Regions from separate parts of the Homo sapiens genome. Here region 2 is linked to region 1. The links come from fine-mapping of genetic effects on gene expression. A gene starts in region 1. The other region holds a variant in brackets. All regions are shown on one strand. Distances are between the middles of the regions. Region 1 holds the start of SETX (senataxin). Region 2 overlaps SETX (senataxin).

The links. PIP is the estimated chance that this variant, and not a neighbour inherited with it, causes the effect.
Region 2: its variant is fine-mapped to the expression of SETX in whole blood (TOPMed, PIP 0.99).

The regions. Positions count from the first base shown.
Region 1 is chr9:132,349,623-132,358,563 of GRCh38, forward strand. It overlaps SETX (senataxin), which reads right to left and starts at 5,364. Exons shown (of 26, transcript NM_015046.7): 1 at 5,295-5,364; 2 at 4,027-4,133. RefSeq lists enhancers at 1,571-1,620, 4,628-5,129, 4,949-6,148, 5,130-5,629 and silencers at 5,014-5,223, 5,274-5,663.
Region 2 is chr9:132,280,181-132,289,121 of GRCh38, forward strand. It overlaps SETX (senataxin), which reads right to left. Exons shown (of 26, transcript NM_015046.7): 16 at 8,370-8,471; 17 at 8,056-8,171; 18 at 6,243-6,314; 19 at 3,084-3,233; 20 at 1,287-1,394. Among named protein-coding and RNA genes, the nearest start is that of SETX, 70 kb to the right of the region's middle. The variant T/C (reference allele first, on the strand shown) is at 4,609.

The DNA.
Region 1 (8,941 bases):
TACGAAAAATACAGAAAAATAAAAGCATTGTATAAGGAATAAGTATCATAAGGCAACATAAAGTTGTGCTACAGAGAAGGCTCAAAACAACACAGTACCGATAGAAAATATATAGAGACCCAGACTTACCAATATTTTCAAAGTACAGATTTTGGAATGGGGAAAAAAGTTACCAACTACAAACTTAAGTTCATTTCATAAACTGAATGGACCTAGCTCAGCATTCTCATCAGGAGTGATGTCACCCTCAAAGAGATCTAAAACTAGTTAGTGGGACGTGAAAAAGCCCTCCTCTTTTTAGATATAAAGCTCAGATAAACATACAGTACATAAAGAGAGACACAATATATTGGTGGTAATAAAATTCACAGGAGAGGCAGTTTTTAAAAATGTTTAAAAACTCTCCACTCAGGGAGAAAGGTTAGAAGGAGGTTAAAAAACCTAAGTAAGCTGGGAACGGTGGCTCATGCCTGTAAGCCCAGCACTTTGGGAGGCCGACGTGGGCAGACTGCTTGAGGTCCGCAGTTCGAGACCAGCCTGGCCAACATGGTGAAACCCCATCTCTACTAAAAAGAATACAAAAATTAGCTGGTGGTGCGCATCTGCAATCCTAGCTGCTTGGGAGGCTGAGGCAGGAGTACTGCCTGAACGTGGGAGGCAGAGGTTGCAGTGAGCCAAGATTGCGCCACTGCACTCCAGCCTGGGTGACAGAGTGAAACTCTGTCTCAAAACAAACAAACAAAAGAAACCTAAGTGAAGACACTGAGTATGTGGGAATGGAAACATGGCAGTGTGAGATTTTTGAGTATCACCGTCACCCTAAAATTCAGAATACATAATCTTTACCAACAGGAAATATAAAACATCTCAACAGAAACTAGGCTTGGCTGCTGAGGCTTCTGTGGCATAAAGCTAGTTCCTAAAATAAAGTGATTTTTTAAAATTCTTTAATTTCTTCTTATACCCACAATTAAATAATTATTTAGAAATGCATAAGCATAATCAAATACATTGTCATATGAATTGATTTTTTAAAATTTATTAAATATTACTTTTACTTATGCTTTTGAAGAGGTATACTTTCTTCATGGTTCTAAAAAGAATTTAGGGTAGCTTTCAACATTAAAGTACATACACACAAAAGGACATTTAAAAATGAGATTTCAAAAAACAAAATCAAAACTTCTTTAGAAGAAATTTAATTTCACTAAGTTCTACATGAGGAGCTTCCTGAAAGCAGAGAAAAAGGATAACATGAGTTACACAGTTCTCATCGACGTGGGGGGGAAAAAGAGTATGCAGTGATAGCCGCAGAGTACCGCCCTTTCCTGACACAAACTCTAACTCAATTACATTTTATTAATGCCTTCTAGTACAAGGGCACTGCAGACTAGGAAATGCCAAGTAACATGGGATAAGGTCTTCAATGTATTTCTGCAGAATTTAAAATTATTTTATTCAAAAGAAGAATTACTTATACCTAAGAGGCCAACATCACACTACTAGTAAGTTAACAGCTTGCAGAAGCTGTTTTTTTTTCCGGTAACCTAGTTTAATATGGAAAGTGAACTTAGAAGACGTAAGAACAGAAAGTGAAACTTCATGGAGGTTTCTCAAACATTTGAAGCATGATTTCAGCAGCTAACAGACTGCAGCCAATTTAAGCTTTAAAAAACTTAAGTGAGACTACCATGCAAATAAAATGTTGCATACTTCTTTTCCCACTTACCTTACTTGAAGCTCCAAATGTTGTGTACTTTAAAATAAGTACTAACAAAGGAGACAACAAAAGAAACCTTCTATTAAGAAAATTACAGAATTTGCTTTTTATTTCACTTAGAAAACTAGCCTATTTCCACAACCAAAAAAGCAAGACTAAATTTTCTCAAAATATATAGGAGTTACTACCAAAATAGGTGAGTGTCATGGCCGCTAGAAGATAACGGAGAATACTGCTGCAGAGCACACCAACAAGAGAACATGTGCTTCCATGGTTCTTCTTCAAAAGGCTGTGTGTGTGGTTTTGTCTTCAAATTTAAAATCATCACTGGCCTAATGGCTAAGCCCAGGAAACCTCAATAGGGCATATTTTGTCTTTAAGGAGAAAATTATTGCTTCTAAACTACTGTGAATCCTCTTAAGCTTTTATACAACTCAGTTCTTCTTGAGGTCTATTTTGTTAGTTTCATCAGACTGTAACGGCTTGCAATCATTAGTGAATGACAAATGGGTGTGTCCAGACAATACTCAAGTTGCAAAACCAAAATTAAAGCAACTCTCTGAGCACCCACCAAAAAGAGAGCTAATGTGTCAAAACCAAAAATATAGGATGCTTCACCATAGGTATTACTGTAATTTTCTACAGACTTATCCTTAGGCTATCCATTTCTCAACATTAACTAGCCAGAAACTTCAAATAACAATCTCTTTCTTCTACACTTCTCAGCTAAACATCTGGAAGTTTAGATTCACTACCTCCCAGCTCTTCAGCTCCTTTGCACTCTGGCTTCTACCCTTACACTCCACTGAATGTGAAGTCCCTAACAATCTTTACATTACCAATCCAATAGGTTCCTGACCTGACTCTGCTAAAGCATATGAAAATGCTGCCCATCCTTTCCTTACCTACAACACACCATTTTTTGGACACCACTTCTACCCAATCACCTTCATAATTACCCCTGCCTTTGTTACTCATATAAATGCTAAAGTTTTCGAAGGCTTGTCCTGAGAATTCTCACCTCTTCATTCAGTACTCTTTCTGGGCGGCCTACTTCAAACCACTGCTTCAACTACTGCCTAGATTGAAGCTGCCCAGACTGAGAATGTATTGTAAAACTTAATGCAGGCAGGGCGCAGTGGCTCACACCTGTAATTCCAGCACTCTGGGAGGCCGAGGCGTGAGGGATCACGAGGTCAAGAGATCAAGACCATCCTGGCCAACATGGTGAAACCCCGTATCTACTAAAAATATAAAAATTAGCTGGGCATGGTGGTATGCACCTGTAGTCGCAGCTACTGGGGAGGTTGAGTGAAATGATGCACTGTTCCACCTACTCAATAACTGACAGCCTAGCCTAGAACTCCAGATATATTCAATATCCAACTGCATACAGTGTATCTCTACTCACATATCTGACAGGCACCTCAAAGTAAACATGACCAGAACCCAACGAAGTCCTTCCCTTAAATCTGTTATTTGTTCTATATTCCCTTGTTGATGACATTACCATACATTCAATTTTCAAACCAGTAACCTAGGAATTATCCTATACGCTCCTTCTCCCTCAGCCGCAATCTCTGAGCTCCAGAGCCTACCCCTTAATTACATCTCTACTTTCTTCTCAGTGCAACCGCCACTGCCTTAGTTCAGTACATTTTCATCATTTGCCTGGATTACTGAAGAAGCCTAAATGATCTATTTCTTCTTTGATCGCCATCAATTCCTCCTCCAAAATGCTGCCAGAGGCCAAAGCCCCAAACTGGACTTCGAAAGCACAAATGACTCCTCCTCCAATGTTGGGATAAAATTCAAATTGCTGAGCTCAACACACACAAGGCCCGCGATGATCCAGCTTCCACATCATCTCTTTCCTCCACACTTACCTCCCTTGACTTGCTCTTCCTAAAACCATTCATGGTGACTGGTATTCCCTGCCTTTATGGAAGCTCTTCCACTGGCCTTGGAAACCCACCCTCCTACCTCTGCCCGGTACTTAACTGTGAATACACATCAGACTTACCTCAGGAACTTAAAAAAAAAAGTAGAAAAGATCCTATGGATAAAATTGTTTCCCTTTTAAAGAACTCCACTAAGATTCGAAGAGAAAGCTGGATTTGAGAACAACCAGTGTGCAAGCTCTTCCTGAGTGTCATCACGTCTGGGGGGGGGGCCTGTCCGACCCGTCCTCTCTTCCAGTCTATCTCTGATGACCTTCTTCTCTGTCCCTTTAGGACTCTGCACATGTTTCCATCATTGCACTTACCTTGGTGCTCTGAACTCCTGCTAAAAAAAAAAATTATTACCTGGACAAATGGCCTACAGAAAAGTGATCGTCTCAGCTGGGCTTAGTTGTGAACAAACACGGATTTGCATTCATATATGCCCAGACTCTGGCCCCAAAAGAACATTTCTGAAATTAAAAAACAAAAAACGAAATTGGTAAGTGGCATTTATACTCTATATCCCATCTGAGCCTGGTATCGATCCTATTACAGACAGATACTGCTGGCTGATGAGGAAGCCCAGATAGGTTAGACAACTTGGCTGTGGACTTCCAGGAAACAGCAGAACTGCAATTCTGACTCCCAGTTCCACAAGGGGCTGTCCCCACTCACGGGGACAGCTAGGCACCGAGCCAAAAATCCCCCAAGTTATTAGCCCGCGCAGGTAACATCAATCCTAGGATCCTCAGCTGTGTCACTTATCAAATACCACACTCGGCCTTCTCCTTGTGGAGCTCTTTTCCCTCAAGGCAGTCACCCCCGTTTCACTTGGGTCGTGCAAATTGCTGGGCACATCCTTAGATCCCCAGAAGTTGGGGAGGACGGACAAAGTCCTGTGGCCAGCAGCAAAAGCTCCAGCCCCTCCAAGTGGGAGAAACAGACTCTCCTCCAAACGAAGGGACCGGCCGGGCGCGGCGGCTCGGAGGATCCCTGGAGCAGCTGAGCTCAGCCTGGGAAACACAGCCAGGCCCTGTCTCTGCAACACATTTTGTTTTTAATTAGCCGGGCGTGGTGACGCGCGCCTATGGTCCCAGTTACTCGGGGGGATGAGGCGGAAGGATCGCTGGAGCCCAGGAAGACGAGGTTGCTGCGAGCCGTGACTGTTCCACTGCACTTCAGCCTGGGTGACAGAGCGAGACCCCGTCTCAAAAAAAAAAAAAAAAGAAAAAAGAAAAAAAAACAAAGGGAGGGACTCCAGGCGAGAGGCAGACGAGCGTGTGGAGGGAACCGACACTTTCCACCCCGAGACCTCCCGCTCAGCCCCAAGGAAACTACGCAGTATCCACACCAAAAACAGCTCACACGAGACCGCAGTGTAGACAACGGAAGGACAGGGGGTCGCAGCGGCCGGGTCCAGCGCGCAGGAAGGCAACAGGCGGCCGCCAGCCGTCGAGGGGTGCTCCCGCCCCCGCACCGAGGGAAGCGGCCGAGCCCGCGCCGACTCTTCCCCCATCCGCCCACCGGGACCTAGGCGCCGCGATGGTTCCCCGAAGCGGCCCTGCAAGCACAAGCCGCGCCTGCGCTCACGCCCGCCCGACCTACGGCCTCCAGCCCGCCGCTACCCTCACCGCTCTCTGGCTGGCGTCGGCCTCTAGCCCACCTCCATACCGGGCCCCGCTCTAGGCCACCAGCGGAAGTGCGGGCCCGCAGCCGCAGCTACCAACCAGCTGTTGCCGCGAGGTAGGCCCCGCCCCCGCGCTGAGTCGGCCGGCCGCAGGCCCCGCCCCGGCCGCTGCTTTCTGGTTTTGGTGCCCCCCAGGGGGCGGGGCATGGGAAGAGCGGCCGCGGTGCACCGCCCACGCCGGGCGCTGGCGTCACGTCCGGGCAGCTGGGGCCCGACCAATCCCGAGTCCCCGTCAGGGTGGACGGGGAGAGTTTGCCGCGGAACCTTGACCTCGGCCCCGCCCGGGGCTTCCTGCGGGTGGGGCGGCTCCGGGATGAGCTCTGCTGCGGGTGGGGTCAGCCCTTACCCGCTGGCCATTTCCGTTCCCTCTTTTTTCTTCTTTTTTCCACGCCTCAGGTGTCTCAGCGGATGTACTACGGTGACGAAGTAATTTTTCTCTTTAGATTTCCTTTAAAGACCTGAAATGTAAATTACATAAACGTGTAATTTCGGAGGAATATGTGTATATCCTTTATATTACAAGAAAGGGAGACCTTAGGTCTTGCGAACAATGCGCGCGATGCGCAACACAGCAGAGTAAATCCCTCGCTGGTGCGGTGGCTCCCGCTTCTAATCCCACCACTTTGGGAGGCCCAGGCGGGAGGCTCGCTTGAGCCCGGAGTTCAGAGACCAGCCTGTGCAACATAGCGAGACACCCGTATGTACAAAAAAAAATTAAAACTCAGCCACCGAGGCCGGGCGCGGTGGCTCACGCCTGTAATCCCAGCACTTTGGGAGGCCGAGGCGGGTGGATCACCTGAGGTCAGGAGTTCGAGACCAGCCTGACCAACATGGTGAAACTCCGTCTCTACTAAAAATAAAAAGATTACCTGGGCGTGGTGGCGGGTGCCTGTAATCCCAGCTACTCAGGAGGCTGAGGCATGAGAATGGCTTGAACCCGGGAGGCAGAGGTTGCAGTGAGCCGAGATCGCACCACTGCACTCCAGCCTGGGCAAAGGAGCGAGACTCTCTCTCCGGAAAAAAAAAAAAAAAAAAAAAAATTAGCACCTGTGGGCCCAGCTTGTTGGGAGGCTGAGGCAGGGGGTGGATATCCATTGAGACCGGGAGATCGAGACTGCAGTGAGCCGTGACTGTGCCACTACACTCCAGGCTGGGGAACAAAGCAAGACCCTGTCTCAGAAAAGTCTATAAATAAATAAAAATGAGTAAAATCCACTGGAAAGCCTATCCCCCCCCTTTTTTGTTTTTGAGATGGAGTCGCGCTCTGTCACCCAAGCTGAAGTGCAGTGGCGCAGTCTCGGCTCACTGCAACCTCCGCCTCCTGGGTTCAAATGATTCTCCTGCATCAGCCTCCCGAGTAGCTGGGAGTACAGGCGTGTGCCACACGCCCGGCTAATGTTCATGTTTTTAGTAGAGATGGGGTTTCACCATGTTGGCCAGGATGGTCTCAAACTCCAACCTCAAGTGATCCGCCCCGCCTCGACCTCCCAAAGTGCTGGGATTACAAGCGTGATCCACCGCACCCGGCCCCTACCCCCTTTTAGTAACGCCTACTACTGACCACGATGATGCAGCGTCACCGTCTTACAGTTAATAGAGGAGACAGGGAAATTAAACAATTAGTAGTGGTGACTCAGGCGATAAAAAAAGAGGCTGAGATGGGCCAGCTTGGGAAAAGTGGGTCAGATACAGCCTTACCGAGGAGAACCCTGGCCCGAGGATGAGGAGCAAGCCCAGGGGAACACTGCGGGAAAGGCCCAAGGCGAAGGAAGATTCTAGCAAGGGGGCGTGGCTTGTTGGAAGGGCGTGGTGGCCGTTATGCAAATTTAACCGTCTAAGGAGCAGCACGCGTTGACCGTTATTTTCCTCTTTTCTACTTCTTCATCCTGTCAAATATTTTGAACATATTTTGTTTTATCATATAACACTAATATACCAACACAGCCTTTATACCACCACAGTCATAAAATATAATTTTTTTTTTTTTTTGAGACGAGTCTCGCTCTGTCGCCCAGGCTGGAGTGCAGGGGCGCCATCTCGGCTCACTGCAAGCTCCGCCTCCCGGGTTCACGCCATTCTCCTGTCTCAGCCTCCCGAGTAGCTGGGACTACAGCCACGTGCCACCACGCCTGGCTAATTTTTTGTATTTTTAGTAGAGACAGGGTTTCACCGTGTTAGCCAGGATGGTCTCGATCTCCTGACCTCGTGATCCGCCCGCCTCTGCCTCCCAAAGTGCTGGGATTACAGGCTTGAGCCACCGCACCCGGCCATAAAATATAATTTTTATCATTTTTTTTAATGGAGAAAAGTGCCATGAAGGTAACTTGTGCCCAGAGCCCACAAAAGTCATAATTTCCTCCTGTCCCTGAAGCCCTCTGTAGGCCTTATCATCTTCCCACATTTTTTGTCTGTGAACAACATATAAATTTTACATGCTTTTTAACTCTGTATATGGAATTATGGAGGATGTATTTTTCTGCAAATTGCTTTTTACACTCAATGTTATGTCCTGAGACTCATTGATTCAAGGTGCATTCAGGAATTGTTGAGCCCAAAACTTACACAACCTATAGAATGTTAAACAGAAGCACTGCAATAGACTTTGTAAATATAAAATTAGAAATGAAAATTAATACTTATTTGGAATGAATAAATAAGTACAAATTACAAACTTCTAAAGCTGATAAAACCATAAACATGGCCAGGCGCAATGGCTCAGGCCTGTAATCCCAGCACTTTGGGAAGCTGAGGTGGGCAGATCACCTGAGGTCAGGAGTTCAAGACCAGCCTAGCCAACATGGTGAAACCCGGTCTCTACTAAAAATACAAAAATTAGCCAGGCTTAGTGGTGCATGCCCGTAGTTCCAGCTACTTGGGAGGCTGAGACAGGAGAATGGCTTGAACCCGAGAGGCGAGGCGACAGAGTGAGACCTCATCTCCAAAAATAAATAAATAAATAAATAAATAAATAAATAAATAAATAAATAAATAAATAAAAAGACTGGGAAGTATGAGGCCTCCAGTATCGTTCTTTTTCAAAATTGTTTTAGCTACTTAAGGTCCCTTGCTATTCCATGTGAATATTTAGAATTGGCTTGTCCCGTTTCTGCAAATAAATAAGTACAAGCAGTTGGAATTTTTATAGGGATTGAATTGTATTTTTAGATACATCTGGGGAATCAATTGACACCTTAACAATATTAAGTATAGCAGGTTCTCTAATAAGATCATTTTGTTCAATGTGGTTTTGTTATAACATTGATGAGAAAAAAAAAATCCATTCCTGCTCAAGGCTTTTTTTTGAGACGGAATCTCCCTCTGTAGCCCAGGCTCTGGAGTGCAGTGATGCGATCTTGGCTCACTGCAAGCTCCGCCTCCCAGGTTTCGGTTCAAGCAATTCTCCTGCCTCAGCCTCCTGAGTAGCTGGGATTATAGGCACGCACCACCACGCCCAGCTAATTTTTGTATTTTTAGTAGACACGGAGTTTCAGCATGTTGCCCAGGCTGGTCTTGAACTCCTGACCTCGTGATCCGCCTGCCTCAGCCTCCCAAAGTGCTGGGATTACAGGTGTGAGCCACCGTGCCTGGCCC
Region 2 (8,941 bases), 69 kb before region 1:
AGAAACAGGTGGTCAAAAAAGGCACCTTATGGAAATGAACTTTGTAATTATTTTCTCAAAATAGCCTGTTTTATTTGTACAACAATTTAAACAGCACAAATGGATTTTTTTTTTCTAATTTTTGTTGTTTTTATCAATCATTGAAGTAGGCAGTAAAGTTGAGGCCCATTAACAATCTCTCTTTTCACTATATGCCAAGGCCCTTCAATGAAATCCTGCATCATTTAAAGAAATGGGATACAGAATTTGCTCTTCATTATTCTCCGTGAACAAAGTTACCTGCAGCAGTTCTTCCCTACACACACGGGTTTTCACTGGGTGACGGGTGTGCTTCTGGGCCACACTCTAACATGATCATGTACCTGCGCTCAAATGTCATACAAAGAACTGCACTATCATTCTGAATAATTCCGAAATCAAAAACCACTAACGATAACCACCTGCATTCATTCCAAGCTTCAACAAAAATGCTTTGAAAATGATCTGTTCTCTAGGATTATTTATGAAGCCACTGCTCAATTATCTGTATAAATAATCTATGTTATTAGTAAAAAATACACATTTCATTAAATTTCAAAACCTCTTCAGATTACTTCAAAACATCTACTGGATCCTGATTCTAATGTGCATTTCCAGGAGAATCTTTCATGAGATTAAAAAAAACCAACAGAGAAGAGTAGACTACAGTCTGGTTCTTCTCTTCCCAAAGTCAGAGCTTGTAATTGAGTCTTTTTTTCCCCTGTACCTTCACTTTCAGATGATGTGAAGGGCACAGACATGTTCTTGTATTAACACTAGAATACCAAATTCTAAAAATGGAAATGTACTCCAAAATTAATTTAACTTCATGTTTTCCTCAATTTGTACATATTTAAACAAAAATGAGGAGGGTAGGATTCTTCTCTTTATTTCTGAAGTTTTTCTTTTATTATTGTTTTGGTGTTTGTATGATTAAAATAAATCAGATTCAGCTCTTAAGAGACTTAAAAAAGGCAGACATGCACACTGCCTTTCCCAAAGCTTGGTTTCCATGGCACGTCATCCATCTAGGCTTCCAAGTCCCTGCCACACTGCTTCTGCCACACATACACAGAAGAACAACTATGACCAAATGGACATTTTTAGGCATTTTTTAAAATTTATTAAGTGCTTCTCTTTTCTTAGTTACTGCTTACTTTTCCCTCCAAATTAAGAGGCCAATCCAAGAAAGATGTCTCTCCCTCCTGAAAACAAAAATTTTAAAAAGCCCCTTCCATTTTAAAGCAATCTGAACATAAAAAACTTACCATAGAGATGACTGTCGGAGGGAGCTGCTTAGGATCTCCTACTAGGATGAGCTTATTGCAGCGATGGATGAGTGGAGTAAGAGTCTCAATTTCACAAGACTGTCCAGCCTTGGTAAGATACAGAAGAGAGAGGCAGTCTTAACAATCTTTGCTATTTATCCATATAGTTTATCTGATTAAAGTTCTAACCATTCAGAAAAGTATCACACTTCTCCTGCACCAAATATCAAAAATACAAATTTTCCCTGAAAACAAAAAAACAAAACAAAACCAACAAAATAAACCCTCCAGGCTGTGTGCAGTGGCTAACACACGTAATGCCAGCACTTTGGGAGGCCGAGGTGGGTGGATCACCTGAGGTCCGGAGTTCAAGACCAGCCTGGCCAACATGGCGCAACCAAAAAAATTAGCTGGGCGTGGTGGCAAGTGCCTGTAATCCCAGCTACTTGGGAGGCTGAGGCAGGAGAACTGCTTGAACCCAGGAGGCAGAGGTTGCAGTGAGCCGAGATCACATCACTGCACTCCGGTCTGGGTGAGTGCAGACTCCGTCTCTAAAAAAAAAAAAAAAAAAAGCAAGACTCCGTCTCAAAAAAAACAATAAATAAATAAAAAGTAAACTCTCCAAACATGTCTAAAAAAAAAATCAAACTTGTATTTTTGAAGTCAGCCACCAACGGGGCCACTACCACTTGGGAACCAGCCGTAAGTTCAGAAGGCCATGCACATCCTAGATGCGTGCTTTTTGTTCCTGCTGGGCATGAGCCTGAAAAATTTTTCTCCTTTAAAGTCCTTTTAAAACTTTATTTTAAATTTTTTATTTATTTTTTAACTTATTTTTTTTTTTTTTGAGAGAGAGAGTCTCACTCTGTCACCCAGGCTGGAGGGCAATGACATGATCGTTGTTCACCGCCTCCCGGGCTCAAGCAATCCTCCCACCTCAGCCTCCCGAATAACTGGAATGACAGGCACACACCATCAACTCCTGGCTCATTTTTGTCTTTTTAGTAGAGACAAGGTTTCACCATGTTGCCCAGGTTGGTCTCAAACTCCTGGGCTCAAGCGATCCACCCTCCTCAGTCTCCCAAAGTGCCAGGATTACAGGTGTGCACCACCATGCCCAGGCCCTTTTCAAAACTTTGTATTTGAGGTTCAGAAATCACATTAGGAGCGTCCATGAGTGTGTTTCCCCATATCTTTCTTCCTTGTTCCTCAGCATGCCTCTTTGATGACAAGACTCAAATTTCTCTTAAATTCAATGACATTTTCTTCAACTATTTAATCATTTCCACTTTTTGTCCTTTCCTTCTGGTGAAAACTGGATCTTGGGTCTCCTGATCACTCAATTCTCTGGTATCTCCTGCTCCATCTCTTTTGTCTTCTGACTCTACGTTCTGACAAACAGTACGTACCCAATAAATGTTTGCTCAAAGAGTGAACTAGGAATAAAAGACATCAGGTGAACATACTGTGGCTCAAAGCTATCCAAAATTATATTAAAACTACTTCAAAAGGTTACCAGAGATATTCTAAGCAGGAGTGAGACAGTCACTCAGCAGAGATTTTGTTAGAAACCATCAGTCATCCTCAAGACTAACCCCCAATACTGGAAAATCCACTTTCACTATGGAGGGTCATTAAGGAGTATATTTCTACATAAGGGAATACACAGGTAATAGCAAGTGAAAATCAGATGCAAAAAAAAAAAACACATTTCCTCAACATTTCAGCAGCCACAATTCATCTAAGACTTACTCCTCATAGTAGTAGTCAAAGTTGTATGGCTGACCGTTCACTGACCTCATCAACAATGACACAGCTGAAGGGGACACCCCCTTGCCCACGGAAAGCAGACTCAAGTAGTAAACCACCACTTGTGCTCAACGTGCAGCAGATGATATGGGACTCTAAGATGATGATACTCTGTGTTTTCTGTGGGCGTCCTTGAACCTAAGAGAACAAAGGTTAAATCAATATTCAGCTGTACATCAATCCTTGACTATGACAGGCCTATGTTTACTATAAAACACTCACTATTTATTAAAATAGATTTATGACAGAAAAATATTTAGTAAAAGTTAGGGGAAACCCTCAAATCTAGGAAACAGCAGAAACATTTAAGATAATCACAAAGCAGAAAGAATGTGTGCTTCGCGGCTGAAACACAGAATATGATTTAAGCACATTAAAAATTTTTATCCAGGGTTTGATTTGGTCAAAGTAGATTACAATCCTTCCTGTAGTCAGATATATGTAGGTAGGTATCTGAAGTAGAGATGTAATAATTCTGAGTTGTGAATTATATGAGTAAAACCAGGGGTGGAATTCAGCCTGAATGTACATTTTTCTGTTAGTTTTTAAGTATATAATATTGCCCTGTCTTTTTTTAGTGCTTTTGCTAGTACTAACAAAAATGCCTGTGAACCTGACAAATCCTCTATTTCCACAGTAAGGAACAGTCTGGTCTCCCTCTCTAACGCAGTGTGCTGTGATGGAGCCGGACGTGAGTGACGCCTCACAGTCACACCTACACTGCTCAGTCAATCAGCATTTCCAGCAGAGATTCAGTTTGCTGCTTTTTGCTACTAAGAAGTAGTGGTGATTCATCTCAGCACATACGATATATTCAACCATGGAATTCAAGGCATTCGTGTGAGCTTTAGGAAGAGGGTGGCACTGTGGTCCTCCACGGCTCACACAGTAAAGCACTGTCAGACACTGTCCTCAGCCACCTAGTGAGTACAACTGCTGAGCATAGTTTCATGGCCCACAGAACACATGTGATGAGCAGCAAAAAACATCTGTGAAGATGGACTTCATCCTTGACTCAGGAAAGATTAATCTGGGGTTCTGTTTAAAATCTGATTAAAATCTGTTTAATCAAAAGCTTTCACATAACTTTTAGTTTAAATAAACTGCTAATGAAAATATGCATTAAATTCAACTATATTTTAGTCACATAGAGAAAGATCATAATCCATTCAGGAGGAAACTTCAGCAAAAATACTACTAACGTCATCAGTTACTATTACCCTCTTTCCCTGACCCCAGTGTGGTTTGATTAGGGCTGCATTCTGACAATCAGGGTATACACCTGGCTCGGCCAAGCTTCAATGAGTCTAAATCTTACAGGATATTTTCACATCCAAAAAATACTGGAGAAAAGCTACAAAATGTTACAGGAGTCTTATGATCCAACACAAGTACAGGGAGTTTATGCTCTAACCCAAGAATTGCAAAAAACAAAAACCAAATATCAAAGTGCTGTACTTTCTTTTGCCGAATTCTGCCCACCATCACTCTACTTCTATCCAGGTTGGAGCTC[T/C]GGAGGGCTCACAGTTGCCACCCTCATCCTAAAGCTCATACAGGTGACTTTTTTTTTTTAATAGTGAAAACACCCACAAAGCTATTTTTTTTGTTGTTTTTTTTTTTTGAGACGGAGTCTCGCTCTGTCACCCAGGCTGGAGTGCAGTGGCGCGATCTCCACTCACTGCAAGCTCTGCCTCCCAGGTTCACGCCATTCTCCTGCCTCAGGCTCCCGAGTAGGTGGGATTACAGGTGCCCACCACCACGCCCAGCTAATTTTTTGTATTTTATTAGAGACGGGGTTTCACTGTGTTAGCCAGGATGGTCTCAATCTCCTGACCTCGTGATCCGCCCGCCTCGGCCTCCCAAAGTGCTGGGAGTACAGGCGTGAGCCACCGCGCCTGGCCAAAGCTATTTTCATTAACTGTTTATCTGATGATAATTATCATAATTGTTTTTTGCAGTTTATGGGAAGCAGAAATAGAGCACCTTATAAGAAAGAATTTAAATATTTACCAGACTTAAAACAAAAAAGATAACTTATAACCACCTCTTAGAAATCTTAGATGGTGGTAAGAATTCATTCTTAGGTTAAAGAAAAAAATGCAAATGTTGTTACACCATTTTCTCCACTTCCACAGATGTTTGTAATTTTTCATAACAATTTAAAATGTAACTGAGAAAAGCCCATAGCTGGCCAGGCATGGTGGCTCACGCCTGTAATGCCAACACTTTGGGAGGCCGAGACGGGGGATGACTTGAGGTTGGACGTTCCAGACCAGCATGGCCAACATGGTGAAACCCCATCTCTATTAAAAATACAAAAAAAGGGCCAGGCATGGTGGCTCACGCCTGTAATCCCAGCACTTAGGGAGGCCGAGGTGGGCGGATCACAACGTCATGAGATGGAGACCATCCTGGCCAACATGGTGAAACCCCATCTCTACTAAAAATACAAAATTTAGTCGGGCGTGGTGGCGCACACCTGTAGTCCCAGCTACTCGGGAGGCTGAGGCAGGAGAATCACTTGAACCTGGGAGGCAGAGGTTGCAGTGAGCTGAGATTGTGCCACTGCACTCCAGCCTGGCAACAGAGTGAGACTCTGTCTCAAAAAAAAAAAAACACAAAAGAGGCCAGGTGTGGTGCCTCACGCCTGTAATCCCAGCACTTTGAGGGAGGCTGAGGCAGGAGGATCATGACGTCAAGAGATCCAGACCATCCTGGCCAACACGGTGAAACCCCGTCTCTACTAACAATGCAAAAATTAGCTGGGCGTGGTGGCACACGCCTGTAATCCTAGCTACTCGGGAGGCTGAGGCAGGAGAATCGCTTGAACCCGGGAGGCAGAGGTTGCAGTGAGCCAAGATCACGCCACTATACTCCAGTCTGGTGACAGAGCAAGACTTCACCTCAAAAAAAAAAAAAAAAAAAAATTAGCCAGGCATGGTGGTGCACGCCTGTAATCCCAGCCACATGGGAGACTGAGGTTGCAGTGAGCTGAGATCATGCCACTGCACCCCAGCCTGAGAGACAGAGTGAGACTCTGTCTCCAAAATAAATAAATAAAAGCCCATAGCTTGTCTGAACAGTCATACTTAAATTTTAAAAAGAAAAAAAAAAAAATCAAGAAAATGCTACAGGTGAACTACTTACCTCTTTAATTTTAGAAGCAAGTTCCTGCCTTTCCTTAGAAACTTTGGAAATGTTTTCATCTAATTCTTGCCTCTGGAAAAAAATTCAAATGTCACAATTAAAACTAAACTAAGCATTTTTAAATGCCTTCCAATGGACTACCTCTAATTTTAAAAGAGCCTGTATTTCACCAATGAAAAATGTATTTACCCAGCTTATTTCCTCTTTACCACTGGAGTCCTGACACACTCTGTATGCTGCTGCGTAAGACTCAGCTGTGTTCTGTGCGCTGCACGTGAGCTGTCTGCTTAGCATTCCAGCACTGGGAGCATCACGCCACCCTTAACTTCCAGGTGATTCAAATGAGGCTGTAAATCACACCCCAACCATTCCTCTGGCCACAGTGATGGGCATCTAACACAGGCCTGGCCAATCATGCACCCATCTTCTTAAAAATAGGGATTAGACCTGCTTGCTCACCCAGGGACTAAACTAACTGCTTCTTTGGATATATGGATGCTAAGAGAAAGACTTTCTCTCCCTCTGGGGTTTCAAAGCTGAGATGGTGGAAGCCCTGAGATGCTGACACTCACCTTTCTCAGAAGAAATGGCTGACACACAGAAAAACAAATTATGGAGTGGAGAAATGATATCATGTGACCCTCTGGATCCACCCATACTGAAGCTAATTCCCTTTCTGTCTAACCTAATTTGAACTGGGCTCAACATGCAACTGAAAGGCAACTAATAAACTCAGTATAGCTTTAATATAAGGCAGTACAGCCTATAAGCCAAATGCAAGGCCATGTGCAGGGACTCATGCCTGTAATCCTGGCACTTTGGGAGGCTAAGGTGAGAGGACTGCTTGAGGCAAGAAGTTCAGACCACCCTGGGCAACATGGCAAGACCCAGTTTCTACAGAAAACAAACAAAAAAATTAGCCAGGCATGATGGCACACGGCTGTAGTCCCAGCTACTCAAGAGGCTGAGGCAGAAAGACAGCTCACTTGAGTCCAAGAGCTTGAGGCTAAATTGAACCACAACTGCACCACTGCACTCCAGCCTGGGCCACAAAGTGAGACCCTATCTCAAAAACAAACAAAAACGCAACACCCCATCTATTTTCGTAAATAAAGTTCTACTGGAACACAGCCACATCCATTTGTTTATGTATTATCTATGGCTGCCTTTGTGCTACCAAAAGCAGAGTTGAATAGCTGCAACAGAAACCAACCATATGGCTTGCAAAGCCTAAAATCTTTACTAGAATATCTTGCCCTTTACAAAAAAGTTTTTAAAAAGATTTTTAACAAAAGTAATTTTAATAAAAGAAAAAATGAAAAAAAAAATTAAAACCAAAAGGACAAAAAAAAAAAAAGCAGAAAGAAATGTGTTAATCTGAGACACATTTTTAGTGTCTTAGTACACATTTTTATACATGAATCATGCCATTCCCCAATAAATAAAGGGCATTAAATACTCATTAATTAGGCTGGTCGCAATGGCTCATGCCTGTAATCCCAGCACTTTGGGATGCTGAGGTGGGCAGATCAACTTGAGGCCGGGAGTTCGAGACTAGCCTGGCCAACATGGTGAAACCCCATCTCCATTAAAAATACAGAAAATTAGCCAGGTGTGCCGGCACAACCTTGTAATCCCACCTACTCGGGAGGCTGAGGCAGGAGGATCACCTGAACCCAGGAAGGTGAGGCTGCAGTGAGTCAGGATTGTGCTACTGCACTCCAGCCTGGAAGACAGAGCAAGACTCTGTCTCAAAAAAAACTTGTTAACTAGTTCGTATACCTGAGTTATTATTCAAGAAATGCAAAGATACCTGTATTTCCCGTCCACCTCGGCATAGAGCTCGCTGCCGGGAAAGCTCATCCAGCTGATAATCTAGAAATTCCTTTCTTTTATGCATCGCCTGAACATGAGAAGGTAACTCTTTTTCTAATAAAAATAACAAATAAAAAATTATATGCTATTCTAATTCTAACAAACTCACACACATATACAACACAATGAGAAGGAAAATTAGTTCCCAAAGCCAGACTAATTCTGGAGGCTTCAAATTACCTTTAGTGCCCAAGTCATTTTCCACCAAACAAAACAGAGAAAACACTAGTATATACCACATTCAGTACTTACTCATTCTGTGGTTTACTTGGCTGTCCAAACTGAACTTTAGAACCTCACTATTAATAGACTTTTCTGGACCCAGTCGTACTAAATTTATATCTCCACAGTTTCCTGTTGATAAGAATCACAGTTAAGGACTAATAAGGACACTGCTGATCAATCCTGTCTCTATACATAGTATCTATATTTCTAAGTAAATATGTTAATAATCAGAGAAGGGAGCAAACATGAACTTCCAATTAACCAGACACCAGGGACTACACCACAAACTTCTTATACATTATTTCAGATATTGTTCCTAACAATCCTATAAGGCAAGTAGTTATCATTTCTACCTAATAAAGGTTAGCAAGGCCATCTAAACAGTACACTACAGAGTTGAGATTCTATTACAGTAACATTTTCAAACTATGTTCAGTAGGACATTCCATAGCAAAATAGTTTCAAGAAAAATGATGAGATAAAATAAACGAAGCAGTTCTCTCATGTTGGGGAAAGGGCTTGTGGGGTGCCTGCATAAACCAGCCATAAAAATATGGAACAGTAAGTTGTAGAAAGCCACAAGAGGCCTCTGAGGAGTA